Regions from separate parts of the Homo sapiens genome. Here all the other regions are linked to region 3. Evidence: fine-mapped expression QTL. Tissue or cell type: whole blood. Region 3 holds a variant in brackets; each other region holds the start of a gene. Each region is shown on its reference strand, or each on the opposite one. Region 1 holds the start of C1orf198 (chromosome 1 open reading frame 198). Region 2 holds the start of MGAT4B (alpha-1,3-mannosyl-glycoprotein 4-beta-N-acetylglucosaminyltransferase B). Region 3 has its middle 12 kb from the start of ZNF367. Region 4 holds the start of C1orf116 (chromosome 1 open reading frame 116). Region 5 holds the start of TNNC2 (troponin C2, fast skeletal type).

What was found.
Region 1: it holds the start of C1orf198, and the variant in region 3 is fine-mapped to the expression of C1orf198 in whole blood (TOPMed, PIP above 0.99).
Region 2: it holds the start of MGAT4B, and the variant in region 3 is fine-mapped to the expression of MGAT4B in whole blood (TOPMed, PIP 0.96).
Region 4: it holds the start of C1orf116, and the variant in region 3 is fine-mapped to the expression of C1orf116 in whole blood (TOPMed, PIP above 0.99).
Region 5: it holds the start of TNNC2, and the variant in region 3 is fine-mapped to the expression of TNNC2 in whole blood (TOPMed, PIP 0.95).

What each region holds. Positions count from the first base shown.
Region 1 is chr1:230,865,820-230,870,490 of GRCh38, forward strand. It overlaps C1orf198 (chromosome 1 open reading frame 198), which reads right to left and starts at 2,702. Exons shown (of 4, transcript NM_032800.3): 1 at 2,361-2,702. The coding sequence starts at 2,693. RefSeq lists a silencer at 2,631-2,850 and an enhancer at 2,674-3,265.
Region 2 is chr5:179,804,270-179,808,940 of GRCh38, forward strand. It overlaps MGAT4B (alpha-1,3-mannosyl-glycoprotein 4-beta-N-acetylglucosaminyltransferase B), which reads right to left and starts at 2,597. Exons shown (of 15, transcript NM_014275.5): 1 at 2,218-2,597. The coding sequence starts at 2,314. It also overlaps a transcript of SQSTM1 not described here. RefSeq lists silencers at 1,452-1,871, 1,882-2,011, 2,142-2,211, 2,442-3,001, 3,172-3,341 and an enhancer at 1,753-2,414.
Region 3 is chr9:96,427,760-96,432,430 of GRCh38, forward strand. No RefSeq gene overlaps it. Among named protein-coding and RNA genes, the nearest start is that of ZNF367, 12 kb to the left of the region's middle. The variant A/C (reference allele first, on the strand shown) is at 2,878.
Region 4 is chr1:207,030,300-207,034,970 of GRCh38, forward strand. It overlaps C1orf116 (chromosome 1 open reading frame 116), which reads right to left and starts at 2,457. Exons shown (of 4, transcript NM_023938.6): 1 at 2,280-2,457. It also overlaps a transcript of PFKFB2 not described here.
Region 5 is chr20:45,824,985-45,829,655 of GRCh38, forward strand. It overlaps TNNC2 (troponin C2, fast skeletal type), which reads right to left and starts at 2,328. Exons shown (of 6, transcript NM_003279.3): 1 at 2,262-2,328. The coding sequence starts at 2,264.

The sequences.
Region 1 (4,671 bases), not on the chromosome of region 3:
CACCACATTTGGAGGCTGTATTTGCATGCTCTGACTTAAAACGTTGCTATGTGAGATAGAAAAACATTACTGGCAATGGGGGAGAGGATACCATTCAAAGAAATAGGCAGTGTCCTTCAGGGCAGCGGAAAGGGCTGTGGAGGCCCCAGGACCACATCAGAAGACTGATCAAGTGGGAAGAGACATTGGGCCCCACTCTATCTAGTTTACAGTCCTTTAGGACAAACTTGGGGTCACCTATTTGGGGGTACCTCTGTTCAGCAGCCTATCCTGTCCTTATCCATCATCCCTGTGCCCAGGAGCTGGCCCTCCTCCATGAATGATCTCCTGGGGACAACAATGAGACAACTGACTCCACTTTGGTGCCTACCTCTGGCGCAGTCCAGGGGAATTTAAATTCCCTACTGCTATTAACCTACGCAGACACTGCAGGCAAAAATGTACCCTGGGCCATGTTCCTATGTACCTCTGTTAAAATTCAGGGTCTATCTGCCCCTCTGCTGTCTGAGCTGAGGCTGGTCAGAGGCATTTCAGAACATGCTCTCAGCTGGTTTTGCAAAGCTGAGATTCAATTCTCCTGAGTTACTCCTGGAAGGACATACAGGCACCACAGCACGGCACAGTTCCACTTGCTTTTAAATCACATTGAGTTTACAAATTCAGAAACGGCTCAGTCTGGCACCAGATGAGGAATGAGAATAAAAAATTAACTTGGCCACATTCTTCCTTGTCAGTAATACTGGGCTCTTCTATGACATGGGCTTTTTCATCATGAGTAGGCGTGTAGATATTCTTAGCTGGACACCAAGCTAAGGGAAAATGACAGTCACTCTCCAACATTTGTAAGTACTTAGAAGTTTACTTCCTGTCATATTTATTCGTGACTCTTCCAAAGGAGTGCTGCCTGCTTTTTCATCCCCCAAATCTGGGCGCAAACACTGCACACAAGTCTTTATAAATACGCCTATTTTCCCACTGAAAATGTTTCAGCTCTAGGAATACATTTTAAAACCTATATTTTCCCCTCCCCAGTTTACCACACCCTTGTTTTTCCTGGCAAAGCCATCAGAATTTGAAGTCCAGTAGAGAATTTCCTTTTGATTCCATCAGAATAAAGAAACACTGGCAGCATCCTTCAGTCATTTCACTTTTCCCTCACATTAAAGTGGGTTTATGACCATGAACACTTCGTATTAATAAATGTCTCAGCACACCCAAGCCTGAAAATCTGATCTAAACCTCCTTAACTTGAATTCCATCCACAATCCACAACTTCCTCGGAAAAAATCTCTCCCAGCTTCTCCTTCCTCTAGCCCAAGAAACAGCCTTAACAGCGAGCGATTTCATTCCTACACTCTTTGCTCAGCTTGACTTTGCTCCTCACGGCAAAAGTTGAGTTTGAAACGCCAAAGAGTCACAGTGCAAATTCTAATGGCACCAAACAGGCTTCGGTTAAACACATTTCTAAGAAAAAGAAGACCAAGTTTCTGAACCCTACAGAAGATTCAGGCGTTTGTGACTAAGTGTGGGTCATCCCTGAGCTTTTTCTGGAACAGATTCAGCGTTTCTACCTTCACAAATGACTGTCCCTCTAGCAGTCTGGACAGTGTCTAGATCTGAGACCTAAACATGCCCTGTTATGTGGCCAAGACTTACTGGAGCTCATTTAAACTTATCGTCCCTTAGTTTTTTGGTGGAAAACAGGGCCACCATGCTCACCCTTAAAACATACGCTGGGCATTGTGCTCACTTGGAAAACATCTTAGGGTGATGGATGGGTTTCCCTCCTTATCTTGGAAGACACCTTTTCTTCCTTGTTACCTGGCTTGGCAATTTTACTTTCCCCATACATCTCATCACAAGTATTCATGTTAGTATATATCATTTGCTCAGTCCCTTCACGGGCAGGCACGGGGTGGCGTTATTACCCCCGTTTTACACAGTGGAAACTGAGGCTCTAAGAAGTTAATTGACCCACCGCCATACAGGTAGTAAGTAGCAGAGCTGGATTAAAACCCAGGCTTGTCTGGTTTAAAATTGCTTGTTGTTTCCACTTTGGTCAGCCTCGCTTACGACAGCTCCGGGAGAAGTCTCTGGAGTCCGTGCGAGCCGGCGGATCAGGTCTAGATGGAGGTTCTTTAACGACCCACCTCTCGGCGATCTCTTAACCAACTCCCCCAGCGGAGCCCCCACCCCCCGAACTTCGGCTCTGGGGCTCCCCTCCCACCCACTGCCATTCCTGCCTTTTCTTTTCCAGCCCCTACCAGCTGGGGCGGCCTCACGCCGGCAGGTGCCCACCGGGCCGGGGCGCCTCGGGGCGCCGGGAGGGGAAGAGGGTCCGCGGCCAGGCCCGCACCTACCTCGTCCCCGAAGCGCACCACCTTCTGGCCCGTGGGCCCGCGCAAGCCGGGGAAGCGCGTGAGCTCCTCCGAGTCCCCGGGGTCTCGGGGCGCCGGGGCGCGCGGCCCCACCAGGCACCGGTCGATGATCTCGTCCTGCTGCGCGGGCGGCAGCCGCGCCCACTCGGGCCCGTACTTCTCGCGGATCTTCTCCTTGTCCTGCATGATCTTCCTGGCCATGGGGCTCAGCGACGAGAAGTAAGTGAAGCGCTTTCGCTCCCGGTCGTCCAGAGGCCGGTTCCCGCTCATGACCGCCGAGCGCGAAGCCGCGATCGCCGCCGCCATGGACGCCATGCCCGGCCTGCCCGCCGCTCCCGGCCCGCGCCCCGCCCCTCGCTGTGCCCGCCCTCGCCCCGCCCCGCGCCACCCGGAGCCCCGCCCCCTCCGGGAACCCCGCCCTGCACCGCCGCGTACCCGGGTCTCCAAGCCAACCCAGCTCCCCAAGCCCCGGGACCCCGGCCCTCCGTGGCCCCCTCCCCGGGAGCTCCTCCCTCCGGGCCCCCCCCCGCCACCCCCTCGCGGACCCCACGAGTCCCCCTTTACGCCTCCATAGTGGATTACCGCGGTGCCCGCAGGTTTCGGGCTCCCCTTACCCGGCTCAGGTGGTAGCCGGCGTGTCCCTGAGTCCGCGCCCGGCGCTCTGAGAGGGTGGCCGTGGTTAATTCCCGGTAGTGACCGCCATAGCGCCACGTGGCCACTGCTTGACAAAGGAAACTTTTTTCAACCTCCAGTGAGCCTAAGAAAGCCCCAGCATTTCAGGCCAAGCCGCTGGCTGCCTGGCTTCTGTTTTTACTCCTTTCCTTCTGTCCCTTTCTGGGACGAGCCACACCTTCTCTGCTTTCTCTGGGCCCGTCCAGGACGCTGGGCCCGGGGCCTGGCGCGGTGAGCTGCAGATAGCCGGGGGCGCAGGGCAGCCCGGAGGCTGGAGGGCGACCTGGAAGGCTGGACCGGTTCGGGGCATCTGGTGCTCAAGGAAAGTCAGCTCCCGCCGCCCCTCGGGGCCAGGTGGGTGCATGAAGTACCCGGTGGCCCAGGTGCCTTTCCCCAACCCAAGGAGCTCAGAACTCTTGGCAGTTCGACGTTTGCAAACAAACCAAAGAGGAGCAGAAAGTTTTCAGACTCAGAGGCGACATCCCAACAGGTAGGGGGCCAGGGTTTGTAATTTTGAGGTGTGTCCCAGACAGACCACAAAATTAAAATTATAGCGAGCCCCCACTTCCCCCAAGCCCCTCTCTCCATCTGACTGATTTTAACAAGACTAACAGGACTCAGGTGAGAATTGTGTCCACTCGTAAAATAAAAAAACAAAAACAAAAACCAGCATTTCAGCTGTTATCCAGGGTCTTTGCCTGGATAGTTCTGAACACAAAAGTAGAAATAACTTGCAAAGTCCTATTTTAAATGTGAGATGGCCTCATCTTCCGGCCCAGAAATCCTCAGAATATTTTTGGAATGTCATGAATGTGGCAGGCTCTACAGTTAAAGACATTATTATCAACAATGTTCACAACATAATATATTGAAGCAGGGAAAGGCAAGCACCACCAAATATAGTCTCCACAGTAAGTGGCGGATTATTTATGAGACCGGAAGTTTAAGGACAGTTTTTTGGAGTATGATCTTCTGTTTGAGTTGATGCTAGAGAAGCTCAATACATTGACCTGAATCCCACTGATTTCTCTCCTCTAATCCTTGTTTAATAATATAGGTAATGTTTAAAGATATATTCTTGAAATTAATTAACATCCCCAGGCTTGCTTTGATATTCACATAAGAAGCTGTCCGTACCCTTAGAAACTTGGTCTCATGCTGTTTTCAAAGCAGTTGTGGAAATAATTGTTGCTTTCAAAAAAAAAAAAACCACAACCCCATGAGGTGTTTTGGGTCTGGCAATAATTGATTGTCAAAGAAGTTTTCAAGATAATAAAAGCGTGAGATAATTCAGGGACATTGGCCAAAGTATGTAAAGTCCATGATCTGGATGATAAGGGGCTAACTGAAAGAAAAATTCTTCCAGATTATAAGAAGAAACTCAGGGGAATTAAAGTATGGCTCTAACAGATGACTTGGCTGAAATTAGAAACTTTTTTTTTTACATATATCTTTATCTACTCCTGGAGGGAATAAAAATAGCCAAACTCCGGCCGGGCACGGTGGCTCACGCCTATAATCCCAACAGTTTGGGAGGCCGAGGCGGGTGGATCATGAGGTCAGGAGATCGAGACCACCCTGCCTAACATGGTGAAACCCCGTCTCTACTAAAAATACAAAA
Region 2 (4,671 bases), not on the chromosome of region 3:
ACGGTCTGCTGTCACCATGCATGTGTGTGGCAGGTGTCTGCCTCCTCTCCAGACCCTGCAACCTCCTAGGAGTAAGGGTGTCCATCATTGCTGAAGTCCAGGCCTGGGGAGGCGGACAGCCTGAAGGCTGGGAGCGCTGCATGGCTGAGACCCCGGGCTGCCCCCAAGGGTCTGCCTCCCTGGGCAGATCCTCAGCAGGTGCTTGACCGAGGGCCACAGTTTGAGCGCTGGCAGAGCTGCTGCACGGGCTAGATAGGAAATTGGGCCCCAAACCCTTCTCCAGGGTCCATTTTGCGTTGGTCTAAGAGGCCGTCCTGGGCTTGACCTTGCGTTTCCAGGATGATGCCCACACCTGCTGCCCTTCCTCTCTGGTTCCCTGCCCACCTCCTTCCTTCCCTGCAGATTCCACTTCCTGGGTCCTTCCCTCAAGTTCCTGGACCCCCGCTGGCTGCAAAGTGGAGGCCAGGTTCCAATCTGGCCTCCGACTGGCTACGTCTGGTTTCACCAGGGGTTTAAGACAGATTTTCTACATGTGACAACGAGATGGGTTCACATAAGAGCCCAGATTCCCAGCTTCTCTTGAGGCCTCCAAAGACCTGGTACTACTGGGTCACCACAGAAACAGTGACAGCCCCTCGACAAGGGAGGCCTATGTCACCCCATACTCATACCTCACAGGATCCTTAGGCTTCTATCCCCTAGGGGCTGGGCTCGTGAATCTAAGTGCTCCCCTTCTTTGCTCTCCTGTTCCCCAGGCCCTCAGAGAGCCAGCCTCCTGGATGCCCCCCAGACACAGTGGGTGCCATGGAGCCAGTGCCTCTCCCTCACTCTGCTGTCCTGGAGCCTGGCTCCCTGTGGTAAGCCAGGCTTGCAGAGGTGGCTCCTGACATCAATCCGCGGGCATGTGGCTGCTGCGGGAGGCACACACTGGCTCAGGACAAAGGGCAAGGGCTCACGGCTCTACCCACGACTCAAAGAGCATGCCCCAGCCCTTCAGATATGGCCCCACCTAGGCCTTCATGCCAGTGTGCTTTTATAGTCACCCTGCCAAGGACCCAGAATGTCCTTCCCCAGGTGACACACCCTACCTACAGAGAATTCTGCCCCAGCCATGCCTGCCCTTGATAATATACCCCGCCAGCACGGCCTCTGCCCAGCCATCCCTCCCGTGTCAGGCAGGCTCCCCGCAGAGTCCCTGGGTGATGCCTCTCTGGCCCTGGAGCCCCAAGGCCAGCCCAGGCCTCTGCTCTGGCAGAACAAGTGCGGCAGGCGGGCGTGCTGGCAGAGCTCGGCGTGGGTAGATGGAGCTCGGAGGGTCCGGAAGGGTCCAGGTTCCCTCGCCCTCCTCCGCAGCCTCTCTGGGATGGCGCTCCGGGACAGGGAAACAGGGAAGCAGGTGGCGGGGAGGCCGAGGGGCAGCTGGACTCAGCCCGCTTAGGCCTCCAGCAGGCAGGCAGGCAGGAGGCCACTCTCCCGGAACCTCCAGGCCGGGGGAAGAGCGCCTCCGAGGGCTCAGGCCCTACTCGGCCCCACCATCGCCAAGACCGGCCAGCGGGGCGGCGCGGGGGGATCGGCCCGCACCCTCCGCCTGCAAGAGCGCTGGGCGCACGCGGAGGGCGGGGGCCAGCCCGGGAAGCTCGGGGTGCGGAGGACGGGCTGGGGCCGCACGGGAGCGCAGGGCAGCAGGGGCCGGGCTGCCTCAGGACGCCTCCCTCCCTCCCTCCCTCCCTCCCACAGGCCGGATGCTGCCGACGCGTTCTGGGCGCCGAAGGGAGTCCCAGGACCGGGTGTCACGCCGGGGTCGCCCAGGCCGGCGCGGGGCAGCAGGCAGCAGGGTGGGGGGGTGCCCTCGCGCCTGTGTCCCTCACGCCGCCCCAGCTCCTGCCCAGGTGGCTGTGGCTGGCGTTCCGGGACCTCTGTGACCTTGGGTCTCTGCCCCTCTCCGAGAACCCCACGGGTCCCCAGCTCAGCGTCGGGACAGCTGCGCCCGCGGAGTCCGGTCCGGAGCACCCACGGGCGCGGCCCGGGCCCGAGGAGAACGCCGCGGCTCCAGCAGCAAACAAGTGGGGGAGGGTGGGAGGGGCGTCCTCGCGCCGCCCGGGCGGGGAAGGGGCGCCTGCGTCGGCTTCCGGCCGCCTTCCGCGGCCACCGCCGGGCCCGCTCCCGCCGCCGACGCCCAGGTGCGCCAGGTGCGGGCCGGGCGGGGGTCGCGCTCACCTTTCTGGCCGCTGAGTGCCGCGTACCAGGACAGCGAGAGGAAGGCGCACAGGCAGAAGAGCAGCAGCGTCAGGAAGGTGCCATTGCGGAGCCTCATCTCCTCGGGTGCGCGGCGGGCGCCCGCGGGGCCGAGGCTGCATGGCCCGGGGGACCGGGGCCGGGGCGCAGGGGTCGGAAGGCGGCGGCGGCGGCGGCAGGGGCCCCGGCCCCGGGTCGGGGAGGGGCGGGGGGCCCGGGGCCGGGCGGGGACCGGGCCAGGGAGCGCGCCGGCCGCCCCTCAGGGCGCAAGCTTTGTGCCCTGTACTCAGGGAAGAGGAACAGGCTCAGAAGGGCAGAGGCAGGTATCAGGCTCACTGCAGATATCAGGGGCGCGGGACACTGGCGGCCTCGCCTCCGCGGCAGGGCCGGGCCGGGCCGGGCTGGGCTGGGCTGGGCGGCGAGAGCCGCGGCCCGGCCTGGATCTGGGGCCTGGATCTGGGGCCGCCGCGGAGTCGACGGCGCAGGGCGGGGCGGCCCGGATTTAAAGGGGCCGCAGCACCGCCGTCGCCGGCGCCGCGAGGGGGTGGGGTGGGGGCCGGCGGCCGGGATCCCGATCGGCTCCCGCAGCCCCGCGTGGGCTCGTGCGAGTCGGCCTCAGGTAAGGCTGGAGTGGGAGTGCAGGTCGACCGCAGCCGGGGCGGGGGGCGGGCGGCGGGGGCGGCGCTCCGGGACCCCGGTACCCTTCTCAGCAACATCTCCTCCGCGCGCGGACCCCGACCCCATTCGCACGTTCTCGGGGCTCTTTCCCGGGCGTGAGGGGCTCTGGGTGGCGCGGGGGACTGGGCGGTTGAAGCCGGGAGCGACCGCTGCCTTCGCTGCCGCCCAGGGCGCTTCCCCGCTCAGGAGCTTCCTCTGGGCCTCTGGACGGAGGCGCGCAGGGGCCCGGGAGGCGGGAACGATGGGCCTTTCTAGGCGGTATCAGGGCCGATGCTCGTGGATGCAGAGCAGTGACCAGCCCAGAACCGTACCGGCTTCCCGGGGCAGGGGCGGCCCGAGAGCGCCGCTAACGGGAGCAACGGGCCCTGCCCCCGGTGGTGTAGGGGCCACCTCGCCCCGCCCAGCCCAGCCCGATATTGATGGGGGCCCACGCCTTCATTGTTTTTTTGTTGTTGTTGTTTTTTGTTGTTTTTTGTTTGTTTGTTTTTGAGACGGAGTCTCGCTCTGTTGCCCAGGCTGCAGTGCAGTGGCGCAATCTCGGCTCACTGCACCCTCCGCCTCCCGGGTTCAAGCGATTCCCCTGCCCCAGCCTCCCGAGTAGCTGGGACTACAGGCGGCCGCCACCACACCTGGCTAATTTTTGTATTTTTAGTAGACACGAGGTTTCACCGTATTGGCCAGGCTGGTCTCGAACTCCTGACCTTGTGATCCGCCCGCCTCGGCCTCACAAAGTGCTGGGATTACAGGCGTGAGCCACCACGCACGGCCCATTTGCGTTCTAATTTCAGGCGTTCCTCAATCCTCTGTGGAACCAGGAAGGGCGCAAATTATAAAGGGACTGGCCCAGCGCCGCCTCTGGGCAGGCTTTGGGCAGCGCCTGGCCCGCTGCCGGCTTGGACCTCCCAGACCTAGGGGCCCGGTTCCTGGTGGAGGCTGCAGGGACCTCTGCCCCACCCGCCCGGGGGAGGCCCGAGGGGCTGGACTCAGACTGAGATTGAATGCGGCTTTGTCTTCCTAGTTCAGCCCCGGCCCACACCTGGGGCTGAGTGGAATCGGGAGCTTCGAGGGGTCTGGACAGAGAGATTGATGCCAAGAAGGGGGTGGCCGAGCCAGAGGTTGAAGTGGGCTGGATCCTGAGGCCCCCTGTTAAAGGAGAGGGCTCCCCACTCAGTGCTCCTGGAACTTTCCGAACTAGAGACTGGGACTTATAGGAGCCTTCTAGAGGAAACTGTCGTGTTTTCACAGGTGTCTTCTATTTGTGGCAAAGGATAATGGCTTTTCACTTAGGTTGTGACATAAAGGGCCTTAGAAATTGTTAATGAGTTACTTAATGTTAAAACTTAGTCACCCAGAGGCCGGGCGCGGTGGCTCATGCCTGTAATCCCAGCACTTTGTGAGGCCGAGGCAGGCGAATCACGAGGTCAGGAGATCGAGACCATCCTGGCTAACACGGTGAAACCCCGTCTCTACTAAAAAATACAAAAAATTAGCCGGGTGTGGTGGCTCATGCCTGTAATCCCAGCACTCTGAGAGGCTAAGGCAGGAGGATCATTTGAGCTCATCAGTTCAAGACCAGCCTGGGCAACATAGTGACACCTCATCTCATTAAAAATTTTAAAACAAATTTTTTTGGATTTTTTTGTAATTTTATTTATTTATTTATTTATTTTTAGTTTATCTTATTTTTTTTTTTGAGACGGAGTCTTGCTCTGTCGCCCAGGCTGGAGTGCAGTGGCACTATCTGGGCTCACTGCAAGC
Region 3 (4,671 bases):
CAGCCACCAATGTGGACATCCCCATGCTTCCTGACTCTGCATTTATATGATACCAATAACCAATCATTTTCTTAAACTCACACATACGTACTTACCAGTAAAAAATATGACATTTCATTAATGCAGTGAAAAAATAATGTGTTCAGGGCACCCAAGATAGCATCACCAGATACCTGCATCAGTGGCTAAACAACAGCAGCTTCTGGTCTCTACCTATGATACTACCTTTTGATTGAAAGGCTGTACACTGTATCTTCTTTTTTTCAGTGAAAAAAAAAAACATCAGTAGCAGTTAAAGGATCAGGAAGTGGGTCCCATAGGGGTGAGGAGGCATCTGCTGGATGGCTTTTGAAAATGTTTCATTCAGCATCATCTGCCTCATTAACAACAGTTTCTGTCTTTTTTTTTTTTTTTTGAAATGGAATTTCACTCTTGTTGCCCTGGCTGGAGTGCAATGGCGCGATCTTGGCTCACTGCAACCTCCACCTCCCAGGTTCAAGCAATTCTCCTGCCTCAGCCTCCTGAGTAGCTAGGATTACAGGCATGTGCCACCACGCCTGTCTAATTTTGTATTTTTAGTAGAGACGGGGTCTCACCATGTTGGTCAGACTGGTCTCGAACTCCCAGCCTCAGGTGATCCACCCGCCTCGGCTTCCCAAAGTGCTGGGATTGCAGGCATGAGCCATCACCCCGGCCAGTTTCTGTCTTAGACGTCTCTCTTGATTTTTATGAATTGACATGATTTCTTGTTTGGTTGTGAATGCACACTGCCCTAGTTTTCAATAAGCCCATCATACATTTTCACCAGGTCCTCTATAGGTGCTTTTTCTATAGTGTTAACATCATCATCTTCACTGTCACTGTTATCACGATCACCTTGGTTCAGAACCAACTCAGATATTTCACCCTCAGTTAGTGAAGGAACAAGGCTCATTAAAAACGTCTTGAATATCCACTTCTTCCAGCTCTGACACAGACTACATATATATATGTATATATATGTATATATGTATATATGTATATATGTACATATGTATATATGTATATATGTACATATGTATATGTGTATATATGTATATATATGTATATGTGTATATATGTATATGTATGTATATTGTGTATATATGTGTATATATGTATATATATGTATATATATGTATATATGTATATATATGCATATACGTATATATGTATATATGTATATATGTATATATATGTATATATGTATATATATGTATATATGTATATATACGTATATATGTATATATGTATATATACGTATATATGTATATATGTATATATACGTATATATGTATATATGTATATATGTGTATATACGTATATATGTATATGTATGTATATGTGTGTATATATGTGTATATATGTATATATGTATATATGTGTATATATGTATATATGTATATATGTATGTGTGTGTATATATGTATATATGTATATGTATGTATATGTGTGTATATATGTATATGTATGTATATATGTGTATATATGTATGTATATATGTATATATGTATGTATATATGTATATATGTGTATATATATACACACACACACACACATATATATATATATATATTTTTTTTTTTTTGAGACGGAGTCATGCTCTGTCGCCCAAGCCGGAGTGCAGTGGAGCGATCTCGGCTCACTGCAACCTCCACCTCCTGGGTTCAAGCGATTCTCCTGCCTCAGCCTCCCAGGTAGCTGAGACTACAGGCATGTGCCACCACGCCCAGCTAATTTTTTTGTATTTTTAGTAGAGATGGGGTTTCACCATGTTGGCCAGGCTGGTCTCGAACTCCTGACCTCAGGCGATCCACCTGCCTTGGCCTCCCAAAGTGCTGGGATTACAGGCGTGAGCCACCGCACCCAGCCGACACAAACATTTTTGATGAAAATTTCAGCTGGGGAATGAGCAAAATCGGTATCAAGGAATAACAAAATCTTACAGTCCTCATTCAGTTTAGTTTCTTTGCAGTGAGCACATGCCACTAGTACAAAATGTTTGTGAAAACAATTAGAAAAGCTGTCCCTGATGATCCCTGCCTTTTTGTTAGCAGAACAATGGACTGGTAAAAAATTCACTCCTTGAAAACAGCAAGCTTTTTCACCTGCCTGTCACAGTAAGTTTACATTTATGTGTGCCTGCTGCATGAGCACATTGCAACATAGTTATTCTGTCCTTGGCATCCCTAATTCCTGTAGGGGCTGTCTCACCAGCTGTAGTCAATGTATTTCTGGGGTAATAACAGCAAAACAATAATGTTTCATCAGCATTATAGACTTGTTCTGCTGTCAGATTTTCATCAGCAATGACCTTGGCACACTAGTTAATTTCTCTGCTGCTTCATGATCACCACGAATCTTTAAAAAAATTTAATGCTGTGTCTTCTCTTAAATCTGCACCTAGCCTGCTGAATATTCACAGTTCCCTTCAATATTCAGTTCATCGTGATAGATCTTTGCTTGTCTCATGATAAGCAGGCCATTAAGTGGCATATGCTCACTGCAATGCTAATGGATGCACTCTTTCAATACATGATCAAGATCTTCATTTTCAGCTTTGCAGTGTTTTTCTATTTTTCATTAACTTCTATCCATCACTTTTAGCACAGAAGTTCAACAGTTTATCCATCTGTTTCTTCAGGTCACATATGGTGGTCATTCCAACACCATACTGTTCTGTAAGGCATTTCACACTTCCACCGCCATCCAATTTTTCCAACAGCATGACTTTCTGTGCTATAGATAAACATAAGTGCTTCTTTTTTTTCTTATCACTGTTACCCATAGGGGTATCTTTTTGGCATTTCCAACAATATCTTTAAACACAGAGCAGAGAATAAGCAAAAAAAAAAAAAA[A/C]CACAGTGAGTAATGCACATAGGTCTTGGCCCTATATGGGGCATTGTGGGGAACCTGCCATTGGTGCATCCAGCTGCATATGTACAATTTTATTACCCTTTACAGGCACGCTTGTTGGGGGGTAATCTGGGCATGCACAGAAAAGATATACCACAGCTGAAAGGGGCCGGGAGGGTCTTTTTTTCTGTTGGGGATGCTGAATAAACCATGTTGTGCAACTGCATTTTGACTGCAACCTATCACATGAGGTCAGGTGTGGAATGTTCCATTTCTGGCATCATGTGAGCACTCGAAAAGTTTCAGATTTTGGAGCATTTTCAAGTTTGGATTTTCAGGTTAGGGATGCTCAACCTGTAATTGATTTCTGTCATCTAATCATAGTAGTTAACACCTCCAATACAATGTTGAAAAGTAGTGGATAGTGAACATCCTTGCCTTATTTCCAATGCTAGAATTCCCTATAGTGTATCCCCATTAAATAAGAAACTAATTTTAGGAATAACATTCAATTATGTTAAGAACGTATTTTTTAATTCCTATCTTCCTGAGTGCTTTATGACGAATGTATGTGGATTTTTTTCCAAAGGCTTTCTCTGCTTTTAAGGAGGTAATAATATTATCTTTTTTCTTTTTTCGAGACGGAGTCTCGCTCTGTCGCCCAGGCTGGAGTGCAGTGGCTCAATCTCGGCTCACTGCCAGCTCTGCCTCCCGGGTTCATGCCATTCTCCTGCCTCAGCCTCCCGAGTAGCTGGGACTACAGGCGCCCACCACCAGGCCTGGCTAATTTTTTGTATTTTTAGTAGAGACGGGGTTTCACCGTGTTAGCAGGATGGTCTTGATCGTGATCCGCCTGTCTTGGCCTCCAAAAGTGCTGGGATTACAGTCGTGAGGCACCGCGCCCGACTGTTTTTTTTTTTGTTTTTTTTTTTTTTTTTTTTTTTTGAGAGGAGTCTTGCTCTGTCTCCCAGGCTGGACTGCAGTGGTGCAATCTCGGCTTACTGCAAGCTCCGCCTCCCGGGTTCACGCCATTCTCCCGCCTCAGCCTCCCGGGTAGCTGGGACTACAGGCGCCCACCACCACACCTGGCTAAATTTTTGTATTTTTAGTAGAAACGGGGTTTTAGTAGTTTTAGTAGAGACAGGGTTTCACCGTATTAGCCAGGATGGTCTCGATCTCCTGACCTCGTGATCTGCCCGCCTCAGCCTCCCAAAGTGCTGGGATTACAGGTGTGAGCCACCATGCCCGGCCAGCCAGGCTGGTCTTGAACTCCTGACCTCAGGTGATCCGCCTGCCTCAGCCTCCCAAAGTTCTAGGATTACAGGCTTGAGCCACAGTGCCTGGCCTATATAATTTTTAAAAAGCAATATGGACAAAAGAATAAGACCCAGAGGGGATACACACACATACACACACAAAAGGGTAGTCTCTAATTGGTAGGTGTCTAGTACATAGGGTCTATGGTTCAATCTGTCCCTTTTGGTATAAATTAGCATGCCAAGATACAGTTTGAGTCAGCCAATCCTCAAGAATTACATTTTTATCTGAGGTACATTTTAGAATCTAATGTAGTGTCATTAGACACATGTGCAAATTTTTTTTTTTTTGAGATGGAGTCTTGCTCTGTCACCCAAGCTGAAGTGCAAGGCATGAGCTCGGCTCACTGCAACCTTTGCCTCTTGGATTCAAGCCATTCTCCTGCCTCAGCCTCCTGAGTAGCTGGGATTACAGGTGTGCGCCACCACGTCCAGATAATATTTTGTATTTTTAGTAGAGACTTCTACTAAAGGCTTCACC
Region 4 (4,671 bases), not on the chromosome of region 3:
CCACAGGGCATTTCAGGGACTATCTGGATGCAAGAGGGGCATGCCCCCGAGAATGGTTACTAGCCACCCCTGACTAAAATACTAAAAGCCTTAAAACCCCCTTCTCCTTCTACTTCATACCTTAAACCCTGCAAATCATCTGCTTCAGCTTTATACTTCCAGACCAGTGTATTGCCCCAACAGCAGATATTTCTACAGTAAAGAAATGACACCAACTGCCAAGGAAGATCATGTCTTTAGGGATTACATAATCCCTGCACAGAGGAATCTGAACCTGAAACCAAAGCTGAGCGAGGCGCTGTCACCTCATCTCCATACCTAGTTTTCTGACCTAAAGAATCTTAATGGTGAAAGCTGCATTTCCTTTCACCGACTTCACAACCTTGAACCTTGGGGCTCTTTCAGGGCAGCCATCGAAACCCTGATAAGAAGACTGAGAAACAAACAAAACACTCAAGGTGAGAGTTTGGTATCTTAACCCTTGACCTCTTTGGGAACTTAACGGGAGGAGGGAATGGGTTAAGAAATATGCAGCACCTATAGTCAGGGCCACCCATCCAAAGACACATTAAATATTAACTACACCACTGACTAAAATACTAAATACTGCCAAGCCTTGGAGGAGAGGAAATAAAGAACAGTTCAAGTTCTGGCATCTGGAGATGGTGGGGTGGGGAGAGGGCTCCAGCTCCATTCCAGGTTGGCTTGTCTGTACCTTCTAATCAGACCCAGGTCCCTCTCATCCTCCTCCCACGAACCCCCCACATGTCCTCCAAGAGCTTTGCCTCTCTGCCTACTAGTCAAAGAGGTTTCCTGTCTTTCAATCCAGGTGTCTTTGCTTCTTGTTGACTACCCAGAAATGTGCCTTGGGCTGGAAAATATCCTAAGAAAAATAGCAGAATGACTAAAACTTGCACAGTTTGCATATCTGTCTCCATGAACACATGGGCAAGTTTCTGTGTGTGTTTAGGCAACATTATCATCTTCCCTTTCACCAGTGTGTTTGAGGGAAGGAGCAGGTAGAAATACCCTCTGCATAGCAGAGCTTTGTTAGACACTGCCAGTGGTCTTTATTCCTAAATTCACCATCTAGGGCAGCCCTCAGTCTGTGAGTGTGGGGTGTTGGCTCTGTGGTGTGAGGTGAGCTCAAGCCTAAATCTCCAGTTGCCAGGACTGGAAAACCCATATATTCACTCAGGGCTGCGTGTGCCAGGCCCTTGAGCCTGGCACTGAGGGCTTCCCACTTCCCTCTTCTCTGCAGCAGGAGGAAAAGAGTCAAAGTTAGGGACCAAAGGGTTAAACCCCCCAAGATGGATAATGGAGAGGCAACTTGCTACTCTGACTCGACTCCTACATCTGCCTTCCTTCTGCAGGTAAATCTGCCACACAAACTGCCAACTGGGACACCTGCAGGAAAACAAACAAAGCCACCACCCTGGTCTGCTTCTCTGTCTGTGGACTCTGCCACACTACCTTGGCTTGAGCCCCACTTGGAACTCTAACTAGACTTGACATGCAGCCACGAAATATTCATGTGGGTGAGGCTCGGCACAGCCAGGTAGCTTTCTGTTTGCCAGTCTCTGTGTCTATTAACAGGCTGAGTCAGAAAGTTAATTGAGTAGAATCCAAATAAACTTGACTTTGCAGCTAGATTATCCATGGGTTTTCCAAAGATGAGCTGGTAGCTGAAGTTTTCTCCATGTGCCCCAACCTCATATCCCTTTACAAACAACCTAGTACAGCTCATGCCTAACACACCTGTACACAGAGAGCTCCATTATCACATGAGCATGATCAAACACACACACACATTGCACCCATTATTTAAATAAAGATCGACACCGAGTTGGTAAAGCCACGGGAGAATTTCCTGTTACAGTCGCTATGGAAAACCAAGATACTCTCCCCCATTTTGACTCCCTCTATTTCAACTGTTCTTTTCTAAAATCACAACTCAATTTCAATTGTTCAGAGATGGAAATTTCCAAAACAAATCTATTTTCTTTTTCTTGTTGTTTGCACAATATGCCTATCCAACCTAAAGGGATAAATGAAAAAGAAGGTGCCTCCCAGCCCCAGTCTCCACAAAAACACTACAATCTCAAGTTGCTACCAACCTGATCTGATCCCAGAATGGACTCAGAGAATTGAGGAACAGAGAGGAAATCTCCCTAGCTGGGGTATAGAGGGACACCTCCCCTCCCCTGTAGCTCTGATTTCCCATGAAACCCCTTCCTATTGCTATAGGATAAGCAATAGTTGGTTAGTGATTAACTCACCTCCACTGGGTTGGGGGCTGAAGAGAGAAAAGAAATACCCTTTTGTTTCAAAGGGCAGAGATGGAGACAGAGGCTGCTTCCCCTGCCTCCTACTGTTTTCTTCTCCTTTTGAGCTCCTCCTGACTTACCTAGATAGGTAAATGCTTCATCTGTGCTGCCTGGCCCCCACCCTGCCACTGACTCAGCCAATCCTAGCCTCCCCTCCCTACCTCTCATTCCAGCTGTTTCCTCAGGGAGGGAATGGGAGGGGAATGAGCAGGGTGGTGCTGTTCCCTCTTAGCCAATCATCTCCTACCCTCCCCTTTCCTGTTTAGAGCTAATAAAGAGCTCTTTAAAAAAGGAGGGCTGGAAGGAGGAGGAGCCGGTTTGGGCTGAGACTGGAAGGACAGGTGGCAGGGAGGGAGTAGGCAGAGATAGTATATATATTTAATGTTGATATAAAGGAACGCAGACAGTCCTCTGGGCAGTGTGCTTTTCCATAGGTCTATGTGAAACAGGTTTTTCATCTAGAACTACCTTCTTCCGCTTGGAGCTTAGTTTTCCCCTGAATTCTCTAGGCTAAACTCATTTGTGTTCAGTTTTGCTGCTAGCTTTTCTAGATGTTGAAAGTCACTTTCTTCCCCAAGCCTAATCCTAGCTCATAAGCCTAGCAATTCCATTCATGTCCACTGAAGAAGGTGTCCCCAGGCTAGGGATGCTGTAGTTGGGCCAGTCTCGCCCCAGTGCTTGCCAACAATCTCCTTGGCCTAATTTATTTCTGGGGGAAATAAAACCATTCATCCCCTAAGAGGTCCGTGTCCTGATGAAAGAGTGACTGGACAGCTTGAAAGGAGAGAGCATGCACTCTGTCATTTGGTCCTCTGCTCTCTTTTGGCTGTTCATGGAAGGTGGCAATACATATTATGAAATAAAAACAAAACAAACTACCAACCAGTTTAGCAACTCTTGTCTCCTTTCATGGACTGATACTTGGCATTCGTAGGGAGAAGAGAGTAGGTAGAAGAATCTACTATTTTTGGGAAGAAATTTCCCACCAGGTACAGAGACCACTCTTAACAGATATGATTTTTGCCTGGAAGCTGGTTTTTCCTACAGGTAGATTATCCTTGATAGGTATCAGGATTTGAGGTATTCCACTTACTAGCATTAAAAGGTCAGGGAGAAAATTTAAAATCAATGTACACAATAATTGCCAAAATGTATTAAGCTCTTGCTATTTGCTAGGTATTGTGCTGAGCATTTTCATGTATCTTTTAATTTAGTCTTTAACTTAAAAAAGTAGGCATTTGTTAATATCTAAATTTTACAGGGAGGTTAAAAATCTTTTTCAAGGCCATGTAGCTAGGAAGAGGCAGGGCAGAGATTTTAATTCAGGCAGTATAACATCAAGGTTGCTATGAATCAGCATAATGCCAATCCGCCTCTATTTTGGAAGGAATCTCAAGTGGGAATCATGAAATACACAGATAATTTGCAAGTGTAATTCTAGCTATTAGATTCGTCCTTTTCTGTTTCATTTCCTACTTAAAGCTATTAATATGTTTTATAACAAGACGACACATGGCTTTCATCTTTTCTCTTTCTGTGATCATGGTTGGATAGGAAATAAAAAGGGCAGTGATCCTGGGGCCAAGGTAAAGATGAAGTGGAGCAGGACTAATGGATAGGAAGGAGGTTGGAGGAAGCCTGGGATAACCCAGTACCCTATCAGCAGCCTATGGATATCACAGCTGAATGAGCACTTCGGGCTATGACCTCTTTCCCTGGTGTGTCATTCAAACATATATGATGTCATAATACTAACAAAACAGGAAGGGCATCTCCAAATCAGCAGTTCAGTGCAACCAGAGTCACACCCATGGATGAAGTCAATGAAGTTGATCCAGCTCCATAGGTGTGTGATTTGAACATTTGCTAAAAAAATGAATTGACTTATGAGAATTAACTTCCAAGAGGATAGTAGGCAACAGTCTTATTTGTGAACAGACACAGTTTTTCAGTTATAATAAAATTAGGATAACTAGGAGGAACCCCTATCTTTTACCAGGTAGAAGCAGGGACATAGACAAAAATCATCTTTCCCTTCCTCCCTTTCCTCTCAAAAACTTTTTCTTTTTGTAAATTATGAAATATTTCAGATACACTGACATAACAAACATAACCGTACCTAACATCCAGTTCAGGAAATAAAACATAAACATCACAGTCGAAGTTACTTACAAGCCTTGAGCCTCCCCTCCCTGCAAACACATATATGTCCTAGCTGAAATAAATCACTATTTCAAATTTTCTTTTTTCCATTCTCCATGTACTTAAATGTTTTCCCTGGAATTCATATTGTTTTTGCTTTGTTTTATTTTTGCTTAGAAATATACCAAGTCTCTAACATTCC
Region 5 (4,671 bases), not on the chromosome of region 3:
CAGCACCCAATCACAGTTTTGTTTTGTCTCGTTCTGTCACACATGCTGGAGTGCAGTAGTGTGATCATAGCTCACTGCAGCCTCAACCTCCTGGGCTCAAGCAATCGTCCCACTTCAGCCTCCTGAGTAGCTGGGACTATAGCATACACCACGCCTAATTTTTAAAATTTTTTGTAGAGATGGGGTCCCACTATATTACCCAGGCTGGTTTTGAACTCCTGGGTTCAAGTGATCCTGCCACCTCGGCCTCCCAAAGTGCTAGGATTACAGGCTTGAGCCACTGTGCCCAGCTTCTGACCCCAGTTTTTGTTTTTGCTTTTTGTTTTTGTGACAGTCTCGCCCTGTCGCCCAGGCTGGAGTGCAATGGCGTGATCTCGGCTCACTGCAACCTCCACCTCCTGGGTTCAAGCGATTCTCCTCCCTCAGCCTCTCGAGTAGCTGGGATTACAGGCATGCGCCAACACGCCCAGCTAATTTTTGTATTTTTAGTAGAGACGAGGTTTTACCATGTTGGCCAGGCTGGTCTTGAACTCCTCACATCAGGTGATCCGCCCACCTCGGCTTCCCAAAGTGCTGGGATTACAGGCGTGAGCCACCATGCCCGGCCTGACCCCAGTTTTTTTTGTTTGTTTGTTTTGTTTTGTTTTGAGACGGAGTTTTGCTCTTGTTGCCTAGGCTGCAGTGTAATGGCACGATCTCAGCTCGCCACAACCGCAACCCCCACCTCCGGGGTTCAAGCGATTCTTCTCCCTCAGCCTCCCGAGTAGCTGGGATTACAGGCATGCACCACAACGCCCGGCTAATTTTGTATTTTTAGTAGAGATGAGGTTTCTCCATGTTGGTCAGGCTGGTCTCGAACCCCCTACCTTAGGCGATCTGCCTGCCTCAGCTTCCCAAAGTGATGGGATTACAGGCGTGAGCCACCGCGCGCAGCCTGTGACCCCAGTTTTGAGCAAAAGAGAGGAGACAACAAGTTAAGCCCAAGGCCTTCTCACTTGTCAATTGAAGGCCAAGTCGGGAACCCCCCCCACCCCCCAGTGACCTTAGGCACGTCAATTAGCGTGCCTTCATCTTTTCTCTGTAGCTTTTCAGGGATGAGATATCAGGGGTGTGAAAGGGCTTTGTAAAGGGCTAGCACCATTCCAGCACTATTTTCCAGTTTTCTGCAGCTCCTAATGGTGCCCGGTACTTTAATAGTTGCTCAATAAAATGTTTGTTCTCAAATAAATAATAATGCAACACAAAGTTATTGAGTACTTGCTGCATGTCAGGCCACAGATCAGGCACTGGAACCACAAAGAAGAGATAAAAGACACATCATCCCGCCCCTCAGAGAACTGGCAGAGTCGGAGGCTGTCAGCTTCCTTCTTAGGATTCAGTCATTGGAGAAAAGGCCCCTCATGGGGGGCCGAATGTGATGGAGGCCTTGACATGAAAGTGAGATTTCTGCAGGGGTTTCCACGTCATATCCAAGCCAGGCCATCTGGGTCAGAGGCTTTGGATTGAGGCTGGCAGTGAGGACAGGGTGAGGCTTCCAAGGAGCTCTTCAGCCAGCTGGCCACCAGTGCTCCTCCTTCTCCCCCTCCTTCCTCTCCTCCTCTTTCCCTATGCCAGGAGGGCAGGCTATTTTTAGTCAGGCATGGGCAACAGCAGCTGGCCTCTGGGATCTAGTTACTCCTTGAAGTGAAGTGGGGAGGGGGATCTCAGACCAAAACAACAGCTCCAAATCAGAAGCCCTCTCTAGGAGAGCGGAGTCTCTCTAACTCTGGTCTGTCATCTTCTGCCCCTTCCCATCATCCTCAGGGCTCCCAGAGCCCTGCATCTGAGCAGGCCCCACGCCCTGCCGGCCTCCCGTCTTCTGGAGGAGGCTTTCTTCTCTCCATGATGATAGGAGGGTTTGGCCAGGCTTCTGGCTCACCCCTGCCACTGGCCTGCTGGGTGACTCACTCTGACCCCTCAGAGTCCCCACTGTGTGAAGGAAACAAGCTAAGAGCTCTTCACAGGTCTATGAATGACACTGCTGGAAGTTTCCAGAAGTGAGTAGGCAGTCAGCAAGCCTTAAGGATCAATCTCTGGAATATCCCAGCCCTCCCCTTTCAAGAAAAGTCAAAGGCCTTCCTCCAAGACACCTGGGTTCCAGGAACCTCCATGCTCCAACCTCAAACATCCAAGTTACTGCCCCACAGAGCACCCAGGCCTGGCCTGAAAGGGGTCCAGAGTGCTCCCGTGAGTAAAGGCACAAAGTCCCCTCTTGTCCTTACCATGGTTGCTGGTGACCGGGACTCCTCTGTTGCAGGTCGCCTCCTTTGCACTCCACCACCCAAAGATGACCTGGCCTGCTCTAGCCCCCGGGATTTGTAGGGGCACCCTCCCCTCCCACCTCCCTGCTCCCCAGCACTGGAGACCCTGCCCAATCAGATCCTGGGGTCAGCGAGTCCCACCCCTCCCACAGTCTGAACCCATTACCTAATTTAGCCAAGGGCCCTTGCAGAGAAATTTAAGCCTCCAAGCAGGTGGCAGGCCTTGACGTCCTAGATTCTTGTGAGGAAGGCCTGCCCTGTTCCACTGCCTTGGAGTCCCCCCGACCGAGGAAGCACACTGGCTCCAAGATGGTAAGGATGATCAGAGTAGTAAAGGGTGAGGCAGCATGGTAAAATGGGGAGAGTACAAGCCTTGAAGTCCAAAACCCAAGATCCAAGGCCAGCCTCTGCGAGTTGTGTGACCTTGGGCCGGTAGCAGTGCCTCTCTGAGCCATTTCTTCATCTGTGGGATTGGACCTGTCTGTGGGGTCTCCCTCACAGAGAGACCATGGTAAATGGGAACCCGGGTATAAGTCACCTAGCTTGTGCTGGGTACACAGCGTTGGTGCTTGGCAAGAGGAATGTCCCGTCTTTGAACCATGGTAAGGGGCAGGGGATAGGAGGAGAAAGTGACAGGTAGGCCACTGTTTACTGAACCCCATGACGTGCCACACACTGTGCTAAGCATTTTAACATGATCTCATCTAGTGCTCCTCCTATGAGGTAGCAACGATTATCCCCACTTGACTGCAGAGCTTTGTAAATTATAAAGGTCTATACTCACTCTGTCACCAAGGCTGATGTGCAGTGGTGCTATTATAGCTCACTGCAGCCTCTATCTCCTGGGCTCAAGTGATCCTCCCACTTCAGCCTCCCGAGTAGCTGGGACTAGAGGTGCACCACCACCCCTGGCTTTTTTTTTTTTTGTATTTTTATAGAGATGGGGTTTCACCATGTTGCCCAGGCTGGTCTCGAACTCCTAGGCTCAGGGGATCCTTCCACCTTGGTTTCCCAAAGTGCTAGAATTACAGTCATGAGGCACCATGCCCACCCATGTTGATGATTCTTATTATTAATCCTGACTGGAGGGAAGTTGGGACAGACAGTCCTTGGGGCACCTGTCCAGATGGAAAAATGTATGGAGGGATGGAGGAGAGGAGGATGTGCATTTGGAGGAGAAATAATCATTGAAAGCAAAGATCCTTCTCTGAAAGTTACCTTCTCCAGGGAAAGGGTGTTTGGATTCACTTTTTTTGAAGTAAGGAGTAGGCAGGGGAAGGTTCTTTAAGTGGTAAAAGGACAGCTGGCCCCTTCCTAGAGCTCAGTGAAGAAATCTGGTCATCTGGGGAGTAAAGGGGTGGGCAGACCAAGTCCAGAGGGAGCCCAACCTGAGAATCCACAAGGTGCAGGCTGGGCACTGGGGAGTAGGCAAGGCTTGTAGACAGTGGCTACGTGGACAGAAAGAGCACCAAGACAACCGATAGCAGGCTCTGGGGCCAGGAAAGGGGGGCTGGACACCAAGGAATGCAGATGGACAGTGGCAACTGGGCTGCCCCCTTCCCCTATATATAGACATTCCCAAGGAAAGCTCAGCAGGGCTGGGCCAAGCTAAATAAGGCCTCCCCCAGGCAGGCAGGGTGCCAAAGGGTGAGGGAGACCCATGGGATTCCAATTTAGTTTTTATTGTTTTTTGGTTTTTTGGGGTTTTGTTTTTGAGACAGACTCTCACTCTGTCACCCAGGCTGGAATGCAGTGGCACAATCTCGGCTCACTGCACCCTCCGCCTCCTAGGTTCAAGTGATTCTCATGCCTCAGCCTTCTGAGTAGCTAGGATTACAGGCACATACCACTACGCCCAGCTAATTTTTGTTTTTGGTTTTTTTTTTTTTTTTTTTTTGAGACAGAGTTTTGCTCTTGTTGCCCAGGCTGGAGTACAATGGTGCAATCTCGGCTCACCACAACCTCCGCCTCTTGGGTTCAAGCAATTCTCCTGCCTCAGCCTCCCGAGTAGCCGGAATTACAGGCATGAGCCACCATGCCCGGCTAATTTTGTATTTTTAGTAGAGACAGGGTTTCTCCATGTTGGTCAAGCTGGTCTCAAACTCCCAACCTCAGGTGATCCGCCCACCTCAGCCTCCCAAAGCACTGGGATTACAGGTGTGAGCTACCACACCCGGCAAATTTTTTACTTTTTGTAGAGACAAGGTTTCATCGACCGGGCACGGTGGCTCAGGCCTGTAATCCCACCACTTTGGGAGGCTGAGATGGGCGGATCACGAGGTCAGGAGATCGAGACCATCCTGGCTAACACAGTGAAACCCCATCTCTACTAAAAATACAAAAAAATTAGCCGGGCATGGTGGTGGGCGCC